Homo sapiens: one gene and its partners. The protein of the gene in region 3 interacts with the protein of the main gene of each other region in a biochemical or structural test. Each region holds a gene or a part of one and is shown on either strand. Other genes may lie near its edges.

Region 1 (3,883 bases), on a different chromosome or scaffold from region 3:
TTCCTACCTAGATTTAATGAGCCCAAGTTTTTAAAATGGAAGAAATGACTCTGGGGCAAAGACCCCTAATGAACTAGTGGCAGAGCCAGGAATAAAACTTGAGTAACTAATGAGTCACTTATGGGCAGAGTATGCAAAAACCTTAAGTGGAAACCAAATAGACCCTGGTATCAAGAAAGCACAAAGTATTAATAGAAGTTTCTGGTTGGGGTGATCTAGGTTCAACAGAAATAAGATGATTTCTAAGTATAAAGCCATTTAAGAATTCCAGAGTAGGGTGGGAAAGCAAAAAGCCAGCTCTGAACAGGTAACAGCTACATGGTGACTGAGTCTATGGGCAAAAGTTCTTGCATCACAGGCTTTTGGGAACTAGCCTATCACAGGGCCCTGTACAAATAAACTTGGCTGCAATCCCAGCTCTCCCTCTGATGTTGTGTGACCTTAAGGAGTGTAAATGGCACCTTAGTTTCAGGGTCACTTGGGTATGAGCATTGGATATTCCCATCCCTACCTCAGTAACTGAAGGACAAACCAAGATAAGTGTGTCTATCTACTGTGTCCCAGGCTTCTTTATTTAAGAAAAAAGTGATACATGATGTGGGATTAAAATCAAGAGCATCATTGAACTTCACCTTCCCTCCAACCAGTTGCCCCAAACTCCCCTGCCCCCACCCTTTGTGTTCCCAATTCCTTCCTTAGTGAATGAAGAACTTAATCCCAAAAACCCTGGCACAAACTCCAGGTTTTCTTTCCCTAGCTCCTCCCCTCCCCCTGTCCCCCATTCCTAGAAGGGCAGGCACCTCAGTTTGAATGCATGGGAGAGCCCAGAGTGGTGACGGAGACAGGGGGAAAGGCTTCCCCCTCAGGGAAAGGGACCGAGGAGTACAGTGCAGTGAAGTGAGGGCTCCCATAGCCTGGGGTACCAAAATGGGGCCCTGGGGCCAGAGGAAAGGACACTGGTCCCCCTGAGAAAGGAGACCCAGCAGCCTCAAAATCCTCTCGTTGTGCATAGTCGCTGCTTGATCGCTTGCCCTTCTGGCGCCGGTTACAGAACCACACTCGGACCACCTGCAAGTGAATGACAGAAAGGAGAATGACATTAGACAATGAGCTGAGACGGGCCTGACTCTGCTTGGACATTCTATCCAAAGCCAACAGCCCTAGAGCAGTTAGAGGAGGACATTAGAGAATGAGCTGAGACAGGCCTGACTGCTTGGACATTCTGTCCAAAGCCAACAGCCCTAGAGCAGTTGGAGGAGCCAGAGCTAGGGAAAGCGAGGTGGTGACAGGGGAAAGAGATGGAGCCCGCAGAGAGACATGGCACTCACATCCTTCTCGAGCCCAAGCTGCTGGGCGATGTGGCTGATCTGCTGCAGTGTGGGTTTCGGGCACTGCAGGAACAAATTCTCCAGGTTGCCTCTCACTCGGTTCTCGATACTGGTTCGCTTTCTCTTTCGGGCCTGCACGAGGGTTTCTGCTTTGCATATCTGTGCAGGTGGGAAGGGGGTGACAAGGGCAAGCTTTGGACTTGCTGAGTAACAGCATCACAGGGGTCTGTGACTAGATGTGTCAGCAGAGCCAGGTGGTGGTGTGAAAAGGCAGGATCCTGGAAGGGTTGGCTCTGGACCTTATCCCAGCAGAACTGAGGAATTTCACTCCATCCCACTGAGAACCACTGCACCAAAGACGGAGAGCTACGAGCCAGTGATGGAAGCAATGGAAATTAGGCCAAGAAAGGGAAGGTCCCCGGGTATCCCCCTCCCACCCTTACCTCCTGAAGATTTTCATTGTTGTCAGCTTCCTCCACCCACTTCTGCAGCAAGGGCCGCAGCTTACACATGTTCTTGAAGCTAAGCTGCAGAGCCTCAAAGCGGCAGATGGTCGTTTGGCTGAATACCTTCCCTGGGGGAGGCCAGTCAAAAGAGAAGCAAAGTGAGGGAGCACGCAGGGCCCTTGTGACCCTGAGATCCAAGCTTACCACCTCTTCCCAGAGGGAGCTCAAAGCATCTTCTCCCTCTCCCTACTCCTCTTCATGGGTGAGGGTAGTCTGCCCCTGCCCCTCCCCACTAGGTTCAGGGATACTCCTTAGAGGGGAGATGCGGTCAGAATCTGCAGAGGGGAACCCACCAAATAGAACCCCCAGGGTGAGCCCCACATCGGCCTGTGTATATCCCAGGGTGATCCTCTTCTGCTTCAGGAGCTTGGCAAATTGCTCGAGTTCTTTCTGCAGAGCTTTGATGTCCTGGGACTGGATTTTAAAAGGCAGAAGACTTGTAAGAACATAAACACACCAGTTATCAATCTCCCCTTTCCATTCGGGATTCAAGAACCTACGTGTGGCCCCAAGGAATAGTCTGTAGAAGTGCCTCTGCCTTCCAAGCTGCCCACCTAACTTCTAGAAATAACCTACCCACAAATGTCATTCACCCATTCCCTGTTCACTGACTCATGCATGTAACAAAGGACTACTCTTCCCCCAGAAACTGGCACATCCAAGGGATGCAGAGCATCGTGAAAGGACAGAAAGAGAGACCCTGGCCTCGAGAACACCTGTCAGGTTATGAAGGTTAGAAGTTCTTTGCTGGGCGCGGTGGCTCACGCCTATAATTCCAGCACTTTGGGAGGCCGAGGTGGGCAGATCACGAGGTCAGGAGTTCAAGACCAGCATGGCCAACATGGTGAAACCCCGTCTCTACTAAAAACACAAAAATTAGCTGGGCACGGTGGCACGCACCTGTAATCCCAGCTACTCAGGAGGCTGAGGCAGGAGAATCACTTGAACCCGGGAGGCGGAGGTTGCAGTGAGCTGAGATCACGCCACTGCACTCCAGCCTGGGTGACAGAGCAAGACTCTGTCTCAAAGAAAAAAAAAAAAGAAGATAGTTCATTTAATACCTGCAAAATTCTCTCACTCAAGTATCACCCCCAGTTTAAGGATGTTTTGAGATTAGAGAAATAGATAAGCTGCTAAGTTCTGGGTTAATTAAAAAGGAAGAGCATCATGTCTCAGAAGCTAAATTCAGTATATACTCTCCCCAGCTTGCTTTGAGGGTCCCACAAACTATAACATGGCATGCATACACACAAACACAGCAAAAAAGTAACAGGTGTCATAAGAATGGATAAAGTGCTTTGTGTGTACTTACTCATTTTTTAAATTGATTATCCCTCATCTTTACTGTATCTTTTTCACTATAGAGGCATCCTAATTGATTTTTAAATTCAAGAGATTTATCGAGCACCTTCTATAAGCCAGCGGCTATACAAAGTGGACAAAGAGCCCTGACATCCAGCATGACAGAAGTGCTATTTGGCACTTGTTCTTCAAGTTGCCCACTTGGATCTCTTCCAAGTGCACTTTCCTTTTTTCCCTGCCCTATAACTTTTTAATAATAAACTTCCACTCCTGCTCTGAAAAATAAAAAAGTAAATAAAATAAAAAATGGCCAGGCACAGTGGCTCATGTCTGTAAATCCTAGCACTTTGGGAGGCCAAGGTGGGCAGACTGCTTGAGCCCAAGAGTTAGAAAGCAGCCTGGGTAACATAGTGAGACCCGTGCCGCCCCTTCTCCCACCCCTGCTGCCTCTATTTAAAATATATATATATATTATGGAAAAAAGTAAAGCAGTCTGGGCGCAGTGGTCATGCCTGTAATCCCTTCACTTTGGGAGGCCAAGGTGGGTAGATCACTTGAGGTCAGGAGTTCAAGACTAGCCTGGTCAACATAGTGAGACTCTGTCTCTACTAAAAATACAAAAATTAGCTGGGCATCATGGCGCTCCCCTATAATCCCAGCTACTCAGGAGGCTGAGGCAGGAGAATTGCTTGAACCTAGGAGGTGGAGTTTGCAGTGAGCCAAGATCGCACCACTGCACTCCAGCCT
Region 2 (7,037 bases), on a different chromosome or scaffold from region 3:
ATAAGATTAAAGATTCTTAGTGAGATCATCTTGCCAATTTGTTGTACATCTCTCATTCATTGTTGGGGGAAAAAAAAGCACAACTATACCTCTTTAATGTTATTTTCTTCCATTATCCCTCATTTATTTGGAAAGATAAGGGAAACCTTGTCTGTATTATCCAGAAGCACAGATATTTGCTTGACACAATATTTAAATTCAGCCCAATCTTTAACATTAAAAAATTTTCTTTTTAACTTGCTGGAAAAGTTGGATACATTGGCAAATATAGGGAATTCATGTCTTTTTTTTTTTTTTTTTTCTGGTCTTGCTCTGTTGCCTAGGCTAGAGTGCAACGGCATGATCTCGGCTCACTGCAACCTCTGCCTCCCGGGTTCAAGCAATTCTCCTGCTTCAGCCTCCCAAGTAGCTGGGATTACAGGCGCCCACCACCGCACCCGGCTAATTTTTGTATTTTTAGTAGGGACGGGATTTCTCCGTGTTGGCCAGGCTTTTTGAACTCCTGACCTTAGGTGATCTGCCTGCCTTGGCCTCCCAAAGTGCTGGGATTACAGGTATGAGCCACTGTGCCCATCCTCATGTCAATTTTTAAAGTGATAAATCCTGATATTATACATTGCAATTAGTGTAGAATAAACGCTTGGCTTATAGAACTCTCTGTTCTTAGTCTAAAGCTGTTCCCAAACCAGGTCATCCTCACGAAACATTCTTGACCAAGAAAAAAGATAAGGTCATTGAGATAGGAAGACAGAGGAAAAGCCTCTTGCTGTTGTTTCTTCCCAAGAAAGGAGAAGCCCTGCCAGGGAGAAGTCAGTAGTATTGCTGACTCACTGTATCACTGAGTGTAGGGTGTGGTAGCAAGGAGGAGGCAGGGGATTCACGCTGACAGGTGGCTCTGGCCTGGCTCTTGGGGGGCCTTCTGAAGACCAGTCTGCAGTTTGAGGAAGGGCCCCAACAATTCATTTGGAGAGCTTGGCCAAATACTTTCTCATTAAATCAGCACCTAAACTTGATGAACTTAAAGTTTGTTTATTAGAGTTGAAAACATTAAAAGATGACTGATACTAATGGGAGAAAAATACTAAAGACCCAAAATTTAAAATTTTCCAAAATGGACAAGAATTGATGGGTTAATTTGCTCATAACTGATATGAGTTTGCTTTTATGTGTGTGTGGAAAGCATTTAATGTGTGATGCTGTTCATAGTCCTGGCTATTTGATGTCATTTTCAGTTTTACAACATTTTGAGGATGACACTTTATAAAATGGTAAATCTTTCTCAGCGTTTACAAACTTGGCTTTTGAGAAGGGAAAAATCCTCTTTGCTATTTCTGTAAGAAGAATAACTGAGATCAGCTATTATATAGGTTTGCATGGATGGTGTCCACAATACAAATGTAAACTTGGACAGGAATAGGATAAATAAATTGCTTTCATCATAAAGGCCAATCATCCATTTCTTAGTCCAAGGAGATTAAATATAAATAGGACACCCCTGAGATTTCCAGTAAGGTATTTGAAAGGATTCCACTGGGAGGGCAGGGAATATATTTTTTCTCAGAGCATCCAGTTTGTACCCAGTTTTCTATATGGTTTGTGAACTGTAGCTTTTAAAAAAAAATTTTGTAGTTTTCTTCTAACCTTATTCATTAAGTAGTTCCTTGTTTTGGCCCTTCTACTCTTGGCCTTAGCTAAAAGCAGTAAATGTGAGTGAATTTTATGTTGATTATGTCACCTGGATCTCCTTTCCTTCCCTTCTTTTTCTCATTGAATGGTGGTACCTTAATTTGGGTAACAGCTAGCTTCTGGCACCTTCATAAAATACCTCAGAATAGCTTAGCATTGTTGCAAAACTGGTTTTAAACTAAAAACCAAATAAATAAGTGAAAAAATTTTATAAATAGTGGAAATAATTCTAGCTGTAGCATTTAGTTGAACTAATGTTTATTATGATCGATAAACAAGATTGATGCTGTATGTATTTGGGATCCTGTTTATAGGTTACAATTTATAGGGTTAGGGAGGGTTGGGTGGGGGAAGAGGAGATGTTGATTATGTTAGAAGGAAAACATTGCTCGTGTGTGTGTTTGTTTTTTCTTATATCTGTCTTGCCAAAGGAAACTTGATTTTCCCTGTGATTGGCTTTGGCCTCTGTGGTCTGGTCTGCAGCAGTGTGTGGTGGCATGCAGGTAACATATGGGGTGTCCAGTAGGTTCAGGGACCCTGAGGGTGCATTTACATCCCTTCCTATGGTTGCCCATGCCCCCCAGACCCTGCCAACCTCTCCTAATGATTCATTACCTCTGTACATAGCAAAAGCATAGGCAAAGGATGAATGCGTGAATGCCTGGATGTGCAGTTGAGAAACAGAGGCAGACATAGACATGCACCAATTAATTTGGAGCCAAGAGGTGAGTGATTGATGTATCTTAAATCTAGGAAAGTTAAAGTGAAACAGGTTCTTTGTGTTGCCCTCTGTCAAGTTACTGAATGTTGTGCTAATAACACAACACTTTAAAACCTTACTTACTTTTCTCATACCAAGGCTAGTTCTTTCTAGACCAAAAACACAAACAGGATAAAAAGCAAACCAAGAAGTTGAAAGCTAACCTGCCCACCTCACCCCTGTGATACAAAGTGTGAACCTTAAGGATTAGTTGGTGGGATTGAGGAGAGAATTATTCTTGGTGGGAACATGAATGAGAAATGATGCTGGCTTAGGAAAAATCACAAGCCCTTTCTGCCCATACTCTGGGACAAACTTTCTTGGCTCCCTGAGTTCGGATATAGACTGTATCTCTAGAAAGGCTATTTTTTTAAATAAATGATCCCACAGAACTTAAGTGGGATTTGGTTTAGATACCAAAGACACTGCTAATGTCATTGCTTATCCTTAAGTTTTCAAAACAGGCAGAGGGAATAGGAGCAAAAAGCCAAAATTTGGAAAAGCTTTACTTTATCTCTTTCCTTCCCTTTTCCCCTTTTCCCAGTCCCCTGCTTTTTGAAGGAAGTCTTCTTGGTTATCCTGGCTTTGGAAAAGAGATTTATTTTGTTTTGCTCTGCTGGCTCTTTAAAGATGGATAGTTGCTCAATCTAGCAGTGATGTTCTTGGAATTGCTGAGAAATTTGGGGAGGGCAAAAGATAGGGGTAGAATTTTTTCATTATTTCCCTTTATCTAATACTTTTAAATAGAACCAACACAGCCTATATGAGTTCAGACAATATTTAGATGTGGTATCTCCATCTGTCTCCTGTAAAAGATAAGAATTTTCAAGAACAGGATTACGTGGAAAACCAAAAGATCTTCCCTTACTCTCCTATAAATGTTTTGTTCCAAATGTTTTTATATATGGGCTCTAGGGAGTCAGGTAGTTCATTGTTTCGGTGTACTATTGATAGGACACAGAAAGGGAGAGAGGGTAAAGAAATGTATCACTCTCTGAATATTGCATCAAAAATGATTAGGTTGCAGAACTTCATGAAAGCTTTACTAATAATCTTATTGTTCTGACATTATGTAAAGGTGGTATTAATATTGTATGACTTGTCAAAGTGCTAGATAGGTTTATAAGTAGGTAATAGGGATGTTGAAGATTAGAGCACTTGAAACAGAAGTTCTGGGAAAACAAGGTGTGTGTAATGGAACACCACTTTGAGCACAGAAACAAAGGTCCCTTGGACCTGGTAGGGAAGATGTGATTTATGATTGTTTCTGTGTCCCTGTATCTGCCCACCCTGCACAGGGCTCCACCACCCAGGGCCACCTTCTGGTTTAAACCCAGGACACTGTCAAAAAGTTAAGACCCCAAAACTAATTTACTGTAAAAAACATTGAGGACTGCTGCAAAGTTTTCCCTTGTTTTCTTTGTGTACTTGTTCATCATTGTATAAGTTAGCCACAGCTTCACAAGAGCAGCTTAAGGCTTCTTTCATAAATTGGCAGTGGCATTGAGTTCTCAAACATTATATCCCAAAGTCTGCAGGCAGACAGCTGGATACAGCGCTGTGTATAAATGAGACGTCCAAACACTTGAGTTTCTTAAGATTGGGATCTCTTTCAAATGAAAAAGGACAGAGCCAAGTAGAGAAAAGACTTTGTGCTCCCACCCAGCCTTAATGAGTCTCATGGTCTAAAAGTATAGGAAGAAATGAAATGCACTTTCAGAAGCTAAAATGACAGTGTCTGCTACAAAAGGCTGTAGTTGTAGGCAGTCGGGGATGCCATGTCCTTGGTTCCATTCCTGCGTGAGTCTGCAGAAGGCACACACTTTGTAAGAGTAGAGTGGACTAGTGCCAGCCTGAATAGGTTTAAAACTGCAAACAGTTGGAGAACATGGAACAGGTTGGTGCAGGAAGCCTAAGATTTTGCAATCATATTATAACATTGGCTTTTGACAACATAAATGTTGTATCTTCCCTAAGGTCAGGTCGGGGAAAGAAAGACTTCCAGCTTCTTACCTCTGCGTGCATGGGCACGTGTGCATTGCTCAGTCCGCAGGAGGTCTCACTCCGCAGGAAACGCTCTCCTCCCGCATAAGTCTGTACTTCCATCCCCTCATCTGTGGTAGTAGTGAAGGCTAGGTGAGTAAGCGTGGGCTGTTCTACCCACCAGAAGTCCAGGAGCTGTTGTATACCTCATTTCTAACTCGTGACCGAGTGACTTGCTTTAACTTTCTCGAAATCCTACAGAGTTGCCAAGTCTGCCCTCCCTCCTCAGTCATGTTAAACTCTGGCCTATAGCATCATGGGACCTGTAGCCTAGGGTGGGACCCCCTAAAGCCTCTGAATGTCGCTGCTTAAAAGCTACTGCAAACTGAGGGCAAATTGCAATCTTCTATTCCTTTTTGTTGCAAGGGGTCTTCACAGGTCTCTTAACATCTGCTTTCCCTGCCACCCTGCCTTTAGGGGCTGGCCAGCTATCCACACCCCTAACCCACCCTGTGTTTCTGACAGCTGGCCACACGTCAACTTCTGTACTTGCCTTTTCCTTGGTGGGGTAGAGGCCAACCCCTTCTCCTCTGAGGCCTCAGGGTTCTGTTTCTTTTCAGGACTTTGGGTAGAAGGGAAGACACCAAAGGCTCCTTTAAGCTGACTGCTGCATACACATTTCACTTTTTTTCCTTTGACATGACCAAAAATATCCAAATATTTAAGTTTATTATTATTATTATTATTATTTGACAATCTTATATCCAATGGGCTCTCTAGAAGCTGCATCCCCAGCCCTTTCACCTTTTCTTTGAATGTAGTTCCCAACCTTCAATTCCCACCCCTAATGCTGACAAAAAGCTTAGCCAGGTCATGATACTGCTGCTATAAGCCAGGGGAGGGTGGTTTCTTTGTTTTGTTTTGTTTTGTTTTGTTTTTCAAATTTCCAGCCAAAACCAAAGATTTCTTAATGATTGTATAAACTCAAAACAAACAAAAGAACCAAAGAAAAGGGAAGTCTTCAGCATCAGTCCAGTCTGTGGTGTCCTGGCACTTAGAAGAGTGAGGCCAGGGAAGGTGGGGCGGGGGGACCCTCTGACTGGATCAGAAAGGGCAGGCAAGCTGCTTACCACCTTCCAGGGTCCAGCACAGGTGCATGCCCCTAGCTTTGGCCCTCACAAACTTGTGAGCATGCCCTGAAACAAATTGGCATTTCAGATTTTCCAAAACAAAAGTCAAAAAACCCCATCACCACCATCATCCACCCTACACCAACCAGGGTCACTATGGGGACTTAGCACAGGGCCTAGGGAGGGTGGGAGCTGCTGCTGGACTGGCCCGAGGACTCCACAGAGTGGGGGACGTTGAAGACACTGGCGCACGATTGGCTGCTCTGCTGGGTGCTTTAACCTCTGGGGCTGGGCGAATGCACGCCACGGTGCCCTTCTGAGCCTTTTTTTCTTTTCCTGTACTGGAACTGCTTGGAAGTGGCTGTCCTGTTTGTGAGAAAACATGCAGAAAGATTATCAAGCTTTTCATTTCTCTTTATTGTAGTTTTCTTTCCTTTTTGCAGCACCACTGTGCAACTATGCATTGTACTTCACAACCTTTTGTGCTAGGTAGATGCCTGTGACTTTTTAACTTGGGGGGTGGGGGGATTGCAAATGAAGGAACTTTTTACATGGATCTTTTTAATCTCAGTTGGTTGGGGGAGGGGGGTACTTGGTTCTTGGGTCACACAAGCTCTATCCCAAAGCAAAATCCAAATGTTAATAATATTAGCCTGATGCAGATACCAAAGATAATTTCTTTCCTGCAGAACCTTAGACTCGTGTATTAAGTACGATTACCCAGCACTTGCATTAGTCTAACCTCAGTAATTCCAAAGCTTAGATGTATATTTTGGTATATTTCTGGGATATTAAAAAAAAAATGTCGTTTAACTTCTTGTTTGTTTCAGTGTAATGCTCTTAAAGTCATAGCATGAAAATAATTGAACTGTCCTATTCTTAGTAGTTTGAAATAATAGTATTTTTGTATGTTTTGGGTGTGTCTATGTATGTATTAACATAACAGTTTTCACTGCCTAGGTGTTCATAATAAAAAAGAAAATGAAAAAAGTTCTGAGTGTACATAATATTCAATAATAATCTCCCACCAGGTGTCAATTTAGATTGCATATTCCTCATTACTGTTCCCAACTGGGATTTTGTTTTCTTTTAAAGAGACAGTGATCGTGTTTTTCTAAAGATGTTTTCTTTCTCTCTTTCAATATCTTAACTCACTTTTTTTTTCTTCCTTTTTTGTCTTAATTATTAATTCAGGGGTGTTTGTCCACTGTTGTCAAAGGAGGGGCACAAGGGGAATTGGCCCCCGGCCTCCTAGAACTTTTTGTTTTATGTACTTTAAAATGTGAGTTTGAGTTCTTCTTTGTGGAAACTTAAGATGTGGTGTAAATGATTCTTTCCAAAATTGTCCAGCAGCTTGAATGAGGCAGTGACAATTCTGAGGTGGTTTATTGGGAGTCCTTCTACATTTCTCTTAGATAACTCTGCACTCTGGGTGGCTATTGTGTAGCCTTACTGCCCCAGAGTGCCTGTTAGCCAAA
Region 3 (7,037 bases):
ATTTATAGTTGAACATTTAAATAAGTTTGTTAAAGGAGAGAAACACACACATACACCTGTCTCTCTCTTCAAATACTTTAACTTAAAACATATATAGGAAGTATATAGTCATTCTCTAACTTAATGACATAGAGCAAATTCTAGATTTTAGAGTTTTGCTTCTTCCTTATATAGGCCATAACTGTCATCTATATTGTTCAGTTTCCTTTTCTGTTTTCTGGTTTTTTGAGACATGGGCATGCTCTGTTGCCTAGGTTGGAGTGCAGTGGCGCAACCATGGTTCACTGTAGCCTTGGACTCCTAGACTTCAGAGATCCACCTCAGCCTCCCAAGTAGCTGGGACTACAAACGTGTGCCACTACACCCAGCTACTTTTTAAAATTTTGGTATAGATCTCATTATGTTGTCCAGGCTGATCTCAAACTCCTGGGCTCAAGCAATCCTCTTGCCTTGGCCTCCCAAAGTGCTGTGATTACAGGCGCGAGTCACTGCACCTGGCCAATTTCCATTTTTTAAGAAGTGACTTAAAAACCTGAGAAACAGAATCCTTCTAGAGTTTTACAATTTTTTCCCCAACCTTACACACTTTAAATATTTAAATTACATATAATATTAAATATGTATTTAATTACATAACTACATAACTACAATAACAAGTACAACTGGCATAAGAAGGTTGATGGCATTCACAATGCATTCATTATGCTGTGGGTATCAGTGAGTACCTTTTATGGAAGAACTGGGGAATGACAGTTACTTCAATGAGACAATTAAGTGGAGGTTGCTTAAGAGAGTTTCCCGATACTGCAACTGAAGACAGTCCTTCATGAATACACATAATAGCAGAATCACTTTCAAATTAAATGGTCTGAGCCACAGCTTCTATATTTTGGTAAAGAAAGCATTACATGTTGTATACCCCCAATATCCAGACTTGCTCTTGCCTATCAATTCTAGTACCAATTATGGGCCCCATGTTGTCCACACCTTCAAATTACTTTATCTTGGAGCAACACACACACACACACATATATATGCAGTGTGTGTGTGTATATATATATATATATTTTTTTAATCATAGCTCAGTCAGAATCTTAATCCCAGAATCAAGATCTCCTTGTAGTTCATCCCCTAAACCTATTCCTCACCTTCTCTGTATATGTTTCTTTTAGTTATCCTGACTGCCTGCTTGTAATTGTGACCATGTATTCAACTTGTACTGCAACACCTATAATTTCCTTTCCCTTTATTGCTTGACCAGACTTTTGACTAATCACATTACCTTTAGAATATATGTAAGCTACTTTTCTTCCCAATTGCTATCCAACAGCTTGTCCTATACTTAGTATCTATATAGAGCCAGATTTCTACATACCTTCATACTTGCCCAGTTCTTGTAGATTTCTTTCTGGTTTTTCTTCTCAGTCTACATTCTAACTTTTCCACTTTGCCTTGTCACTCCCAATTCTACCATCTTTTCAGCTAAAATCCATAGTCACTCATGATTGCTAAGATAACATACAAAGTGCAATGAGTACATGCAGAATGGAAAAGCAGTGGCTCTTATGGCACTGAAAGATCCCAGAGAAACCCTAAATTATGTTTTCCACATGCTTTTGCTATGGCATAACAAATGAACTTAGACATATGAGAAAAGTTTCAGGTAACAGTTGAAACAAAAAGATTTTCTGGATTTTCTAGTAAAGAAATTAAAGGAATTAGAATATTTATTATTCCTCAGGAATCTGAATTGTTAAGTTTATCATATATAAATCTTCTAAAGAATGATCCATTTTATTATAATCTTATTTTTAATAGTAAATATTGAGTACAGTTACCTATTAAGTTTGAAAGAATAAAAATGATTGCTGTTTGATCCTCATAGTCTCATTCTAATGTTCACAGTATATAACCTTTGTGTCATTTCCAAACCCGCACTTAGTAATAATTACTGCAAGTTTAAAAAGCAGCATTATTTTTTAAATCAACATATAACAACTTCCAAAGTTTTTAACATCTCTGAAATTTTATTTAAGAAAACTGAAATCATTTTTTCTTGATAAAATCTTCCTTTTGACTAAACACATCAGAAAGAAAAGGCACAAAGATTACTCCAACCTCTGATTCCAGAATAATACTGATTAATAGAATGCCACTTCAACAGTCAACTGCTTCAAAGTACTTTAAGACTACTATATCCACAGAAGCACAAATAATGATAAACATATGGCTTTAGTCACTATAAATATGGTTAATAGGAACCCCATTTTTGAAAAATCAGAATATGTTTTCCATTCATTTAAACTACTCTAATATGTTATCAACACACAGATGCATGTACCCATATAGTCTTCCTCCCCAGCTATGAAGTGTTACTATCTCTATTAAACATATTTTTCCTAAAAGACAATATTAAATAGGTTCTTTACTTAAGTATGCCTTCAATTTGACAAACATGACTCAAGTGCAAAAGAAAGTAATTAGGTAAATGTTAGCTATCACAACAAAACCTGTTAAGAGGTTTTTATGTGAGATGTTCTCCTAAGCATTTAAAAGATAAAAGCACATGGTCTTATAGGCTAGCATACATCAAATTAAAAACGTACCAATTTCTTCCACTTCTTCCAAGAAATCATTGTATTCTCTTAGACTAGGAAAATCTTCTTCCCTTTTATTGTATCTTTAAGAAAAGAAAAAAGAAATCTACATATTACATATCATTGCTTTTAATATTATCTAACTGGTTTGCTTGTTCTGACCTAATTCATATATGATACATGGAAAAGAATTGCTTACTGTGTAAAACATCGTTCTCTATTTTTTTATTTTTATTTTTTGAGATGGAGTCTTGCTCTGTTGTCCAGGCTGGAGTGCAGTGGCACAATCTTGGCTCACTGCTACCTCCATCTCTCTGGTTCAAGCAATTCTGCTGCCTCAGCCCCCCGAATAGCTGGGATTATTACAGGCGCACACCACCATATCCACTTAATGTTTTTTGTATTTAGTAGAGATGGGACTTCACCATGTTGGCCAGGCTGGTCTCAAACTCTGATCTCAAGTGATCCACCACCTCGGCCTCCCAAAGTGCTGGGATTACAAGCATGAGCCACCGCGCCCAGCCTAAAACACTGTTTTTCTTGACACCAGGTTTGTAACCAGACCAAAAATGCAATTCTTAAATTCTTATGACTACGGAGAAGAAGTAGGATCAGGAGAAAATGGTACAATATGCAAAATCCTTGTTAAGACTTCAGGGAAAGATAAATTGGGAGCTTGAAAGATTGGGAAATGAGCTTAAGCAAGACATAACATTGGAAATTATGGTATTATTTACTTCTAAGGGATTCACTAATTTCCAAAACACAAAAAATTGAAGCGACTCCTCCATTTTTCATGACATAGTCTAAAAAATACTGGATCAAGAAAATCTGTATATATTGTAATGTACCTGTAAAGAATCAGTAAATTGCAAGGAATTACCAATGAAAGATCAAAATCTAAGAGACTACCTTGCAGAAGTTATACAAACAATAAAAGAGCCGCTAGGCGGATTGATAAAGTATTATTGGTTATGTACCTAGAAAGATGCTGCTAAAACACTGGTTACCTGGGTTGAAATGTATACCACCAAAAATAAAAATAAACATATCAATTATTTCTCATAATAACAGATAAAAGGAAACCCAAAACTATTAACAAAGAGTAAAGAGTAAAGCCTAAATTGTAAATGAAAAAGACAGATTAATAATATATAGGTATATATATACATATATACACACATATATTTACTATGCCCATGTGTGTATATCTATATACACAAAAATACACATACCAAAATAAACTATAGCTAACACGTAATTTTCTCTAATAGCCTTCAAACTTCAACTTAATGTTACCTCCTCTGCCCACACCTGACATCATTGACCACAGCAACACTGAGTCACTAACTATATAGCACTATTCTCAATCTATAATAAATAACATTTGTTTTGGTTTACTTGTTTTTTTGTCTTTTTGCTATCCTATGCTACTGTATGGTAAGTCTCATGAGGACAGAGTTCATAGCTGTTTTACTCATCACTTCATAACTACTGCTTAACATGCATAACATGTTTACACATAGTAGTGTTTACACATAGTAGGTACTCAATACATAGTAGGTACTCAATACATGTTTATTAATCAAAGAATAAATACAAATGAATAATGAAGCCATCAATCAAGAGGCTCTTCTTTAACAAAGATAAATAATATTACTCAGTTCTCTAAGAACTTAAATGAATTTATAGTTATTTACTTGCTAATCTGTCCACATTTATGAGCAAATAATAATCAATTACTGACATAATTGTTAAAGTCCTCTTTGTTGACTGAATCATTCGAGCAGGAATACTTACATCTTTAGCACTTTTTTCCTGATCTCAACCTCCTTGTCAACAGTGGGATCTTCAAAGAGTTGTACCCTGAAGTTGCTCTTTCTGAGTGGAGTACCACACTCAGGGCAGTTTCCAGCTCCTCTCACAAACAGTAAATCTACACAACTTTCACAGCTGTAAGGACAGAAATAAAACATAACATTTAAGCCAATGTTCAAATCTACAACACATCTGAATAGTTTGCCCCTATGGGATAAGGAGAGTGAGACTTGAAAACTAGTCACTTCTATTTAAAATCTTACCAAAAAACTTTCTGGAAAATGTTCTTTTTCATTTGGAGCTTACTTTTCAGATATAGGTATCCCAAGTGATACCAGTTTAGTTTTACAGATCAAACAAATTTATAAATTAAAACAAATTGAGTGAGAGACTAGGAAGAAGAGCAGGATAGGGAGAAGTCAAAGAGCATGTAAAAGGCTACTGTATGGTCACCTCCATCCCCAGTCCCAATATCATCCATAGACCTGGGCAAGAGAAGCCTCTGCCAGGGGCCTGCTCTTTAGAGAGCCCTATATACCCCAAGCACTAAAACAGATGTTTTTTTCTTCCTTTCCTTGTAAGAATGTCTTTTGAAAGTTCAGTAATCAACTGAGCAAATGACAATTACAAGAAAGAGGTGCTAGCTGAATGAGGCCTCACTGGCCAGAGGATAAAGAACTTTGAGCGCTCCAGTATGTGTGAGGGAGAAAATGAACACAACTTCTGCCATGAGAAATCCCAGAAAGAGTGGCTGCTTATAAAAGCTTTATTCGGTTAAAGTTCGTTGCCCCAAATAAAGCAAACCGAATTCCCAGGCAAGCCAGGTTTCCCAGATACCTGCATCCCCTTTTCTGGTAGTGCAACATTAAGAAGGGCTTACAACTTCCTAGAAGACTTGAGTTGAAAAAACAATGAACTGGAGAGGCAAACCTCTCTATAACCAGATTCCTGGGGACTTGGTGGGATCTGTTAATATACTGTTTTAGATGGGTCTAGGTACCACCCCAATCATCCCTGCCCTACCCCAACAGATCCATACTACCACTCAGTCAGGCAGGTTACAAAGATGGATGGGAGGAGAGAGCAGTTCCTTTAGCCTCTGAGTCTTGAGGGTATAGGCTGCTGGCAACTCAACATGCTGTGTAGGAAATCAGGCTGGGCCAAGGATGTGGCTTGATTTATAACTTTTAAATATTCGAATGTTTTGATAAATATTTAAACATTTGTAGTCCTCCAGGTGTAATCTTGCCCAATTCCATATGTGTTAGGACCACACAGTCCTAATCACTCCTTTTGTTGGCAATATCTGACATCATCTTATTTATTTCTGTGTTCTGTCTCCTAGACAAGGAAGTACAGTATATTTCATAAAGACAGAATGTTGCCTATCTTGTTCTCTATCCGCAGTGCCTAACGCTAAGTACTCACTAAGTAAACTTCACAAAACAAAAAAATGAATACAAGACAAAGGGAAAAAGAGAAATTCTAATGAATAGGGAAGAGTTGATTTCTTCCAAGTGTGTATTTAACTTACAGAATAAGCTAAATAAGAAAAGTAATAAGAAAAATAAGAATTTTTAAGGTTATTAGTAAAATACTAACATTGATCTTTAAATATATACATACACACACAGACATATATATACACACATATGTATATATATACCTATTTTATATATATATATATATATTTTTTTTTTTTTTTTTTTTTTTTTGAGAATGCAGTGAAGTTGTCACAGCTCTCTGCAGCCTTGCCCTCCCAGATTCAGGCAATCGTCCTACATCAGGCTCCTCAGTAGCTGGGATAACAAGCACACACTGTCACGCTCTGCTAATTTTTTTATTTTTTTGTAGAGACTGGGACTCCCCATGTTGCTCAGGCTGGTCTCGAACTCCTGGGCTCAAGCGATCCTCCTGCCTTGACCTCCCAAGGTTCTGGGATTATAGGCATGAGCCACCACTCCTGGCCTATATTTCTATCTTAATAGTGTCACTAAAAAATAACAGGGAAAAATTCCAAAGATCATAGTGTCATTAGCAAGATCAACTAAACCCCAGATAAACCACTCTGGACTTAGGAAGTTTCAGAGTGGTGCATTTTCACTATTCTTTGTGGTTAGAGGAAATTAAACCCATCCATGGAAGGTGAAAACAGGCAAACTTTACAACTATACTAACTAAAGATATTTATAAGTAAGCATCTATCCAAAATAGTCAAAATTACAGAGCCACAAATAACATTAATATATCTCAAGGTCTTGGAGATTAGACTCAATCAATAGTTTAGTCAGCAAGGTAATATAGAACATTAATATTTCTAAACGTTATATTGTATATTAGACATAATATATTGTTTCCAAAATCAGTTGTACATCTCCACTTTTTATAATCTGCCTTGTCATAATAATTTAAATAGTATTAAAATTTTTTATTGCAGTTTATTTTCCTACGTAACATTTTCCATTTCTAATTTTAACTGTGAAAAGAATATTTTTTCTTTAAAGCTTATAAAATATAGAATTATATAGAAAAATAACTCAAAGTTCTACTTCATTGTGTTCTGTATCTCACTTCCCACGGGTAATATGCTACTGTTGAGTTTAGTGTTTGTGTGGCCACATC

Evidence for each region. Proteins that work in one complex are often made in the same cells at the same time.
Region 1: the proteins of MNAT1 (region 3) and POU5F1 form a complex in vitro, tested with the Homo sapiens proteins (one study listed by BioGRID).
Region 2: the proteins of MNAT1 (region 3) and POU2F1 form a complex in vitro, tested with the Homo sapiens proteins (one study listed by BioGRID).

What each region holds. Positions count from the first base shown.
Region 1 is NC_000006.12:31,163,800-31,167,682, forward strand, and holds the end of POU5F1 (POU domain, class 5, transcription factor 1), read right to left. Parts: intron 3,372-3,883; exon of another isoform or gene 2,249-3,371; coding exon 2,128-2,248; exon of another isoform or gene 1,903-2,127; coding exon 1,772-1,902; intron 1,488-1,771; coding exon 1,329-1,487; intron 1,069-1,328; coding exon 802-1,068; 3' UTR 538-801; downstream 1-537. UniProt on the Homo sapiens protein: Transcription factor that binds to the octamer motif (5'-ATTTGCAT-3'). Forms a trimeric complex with SOX2 or SOX15 on DNA and controls the expression of a number of genes involved in embryonic development such as YES1, FGF4, UTF1 and ZFP206.
Region 2 is NC_000001.11:167,419,886-167,426,922, forward strand, and holds part of POU2F1 (POU domain, class 2, transcription factor 1), read left to right. Parts: 3' UTR 1-7,037. UniProt on the Homo sapiens protein: Transcription factor that binds to the octamer motif (5'-ATTTGCAT-3') and activates the promoters of the genes for some small nuclear RNAs (snRNA) and of genes such as those for histone H2B and immunoglobulins.
Region 3 is NC_000014.9:60,793,730-60,800,766, reverse strand, and holds part of MNAT1 (CDK-activating kinase assembly factor MAT1), read right to left. Parts: intron 4,551-7,037; coding exon 4,398-4,550; intron 2,681-4,397; coding exon 2,607-2,680; intron 1,509-2,606; exon of another isoform or gene 1,376-1,508; intron 1,356-1,375; exon of another isoform or gene 726-1,355; intron 1-725.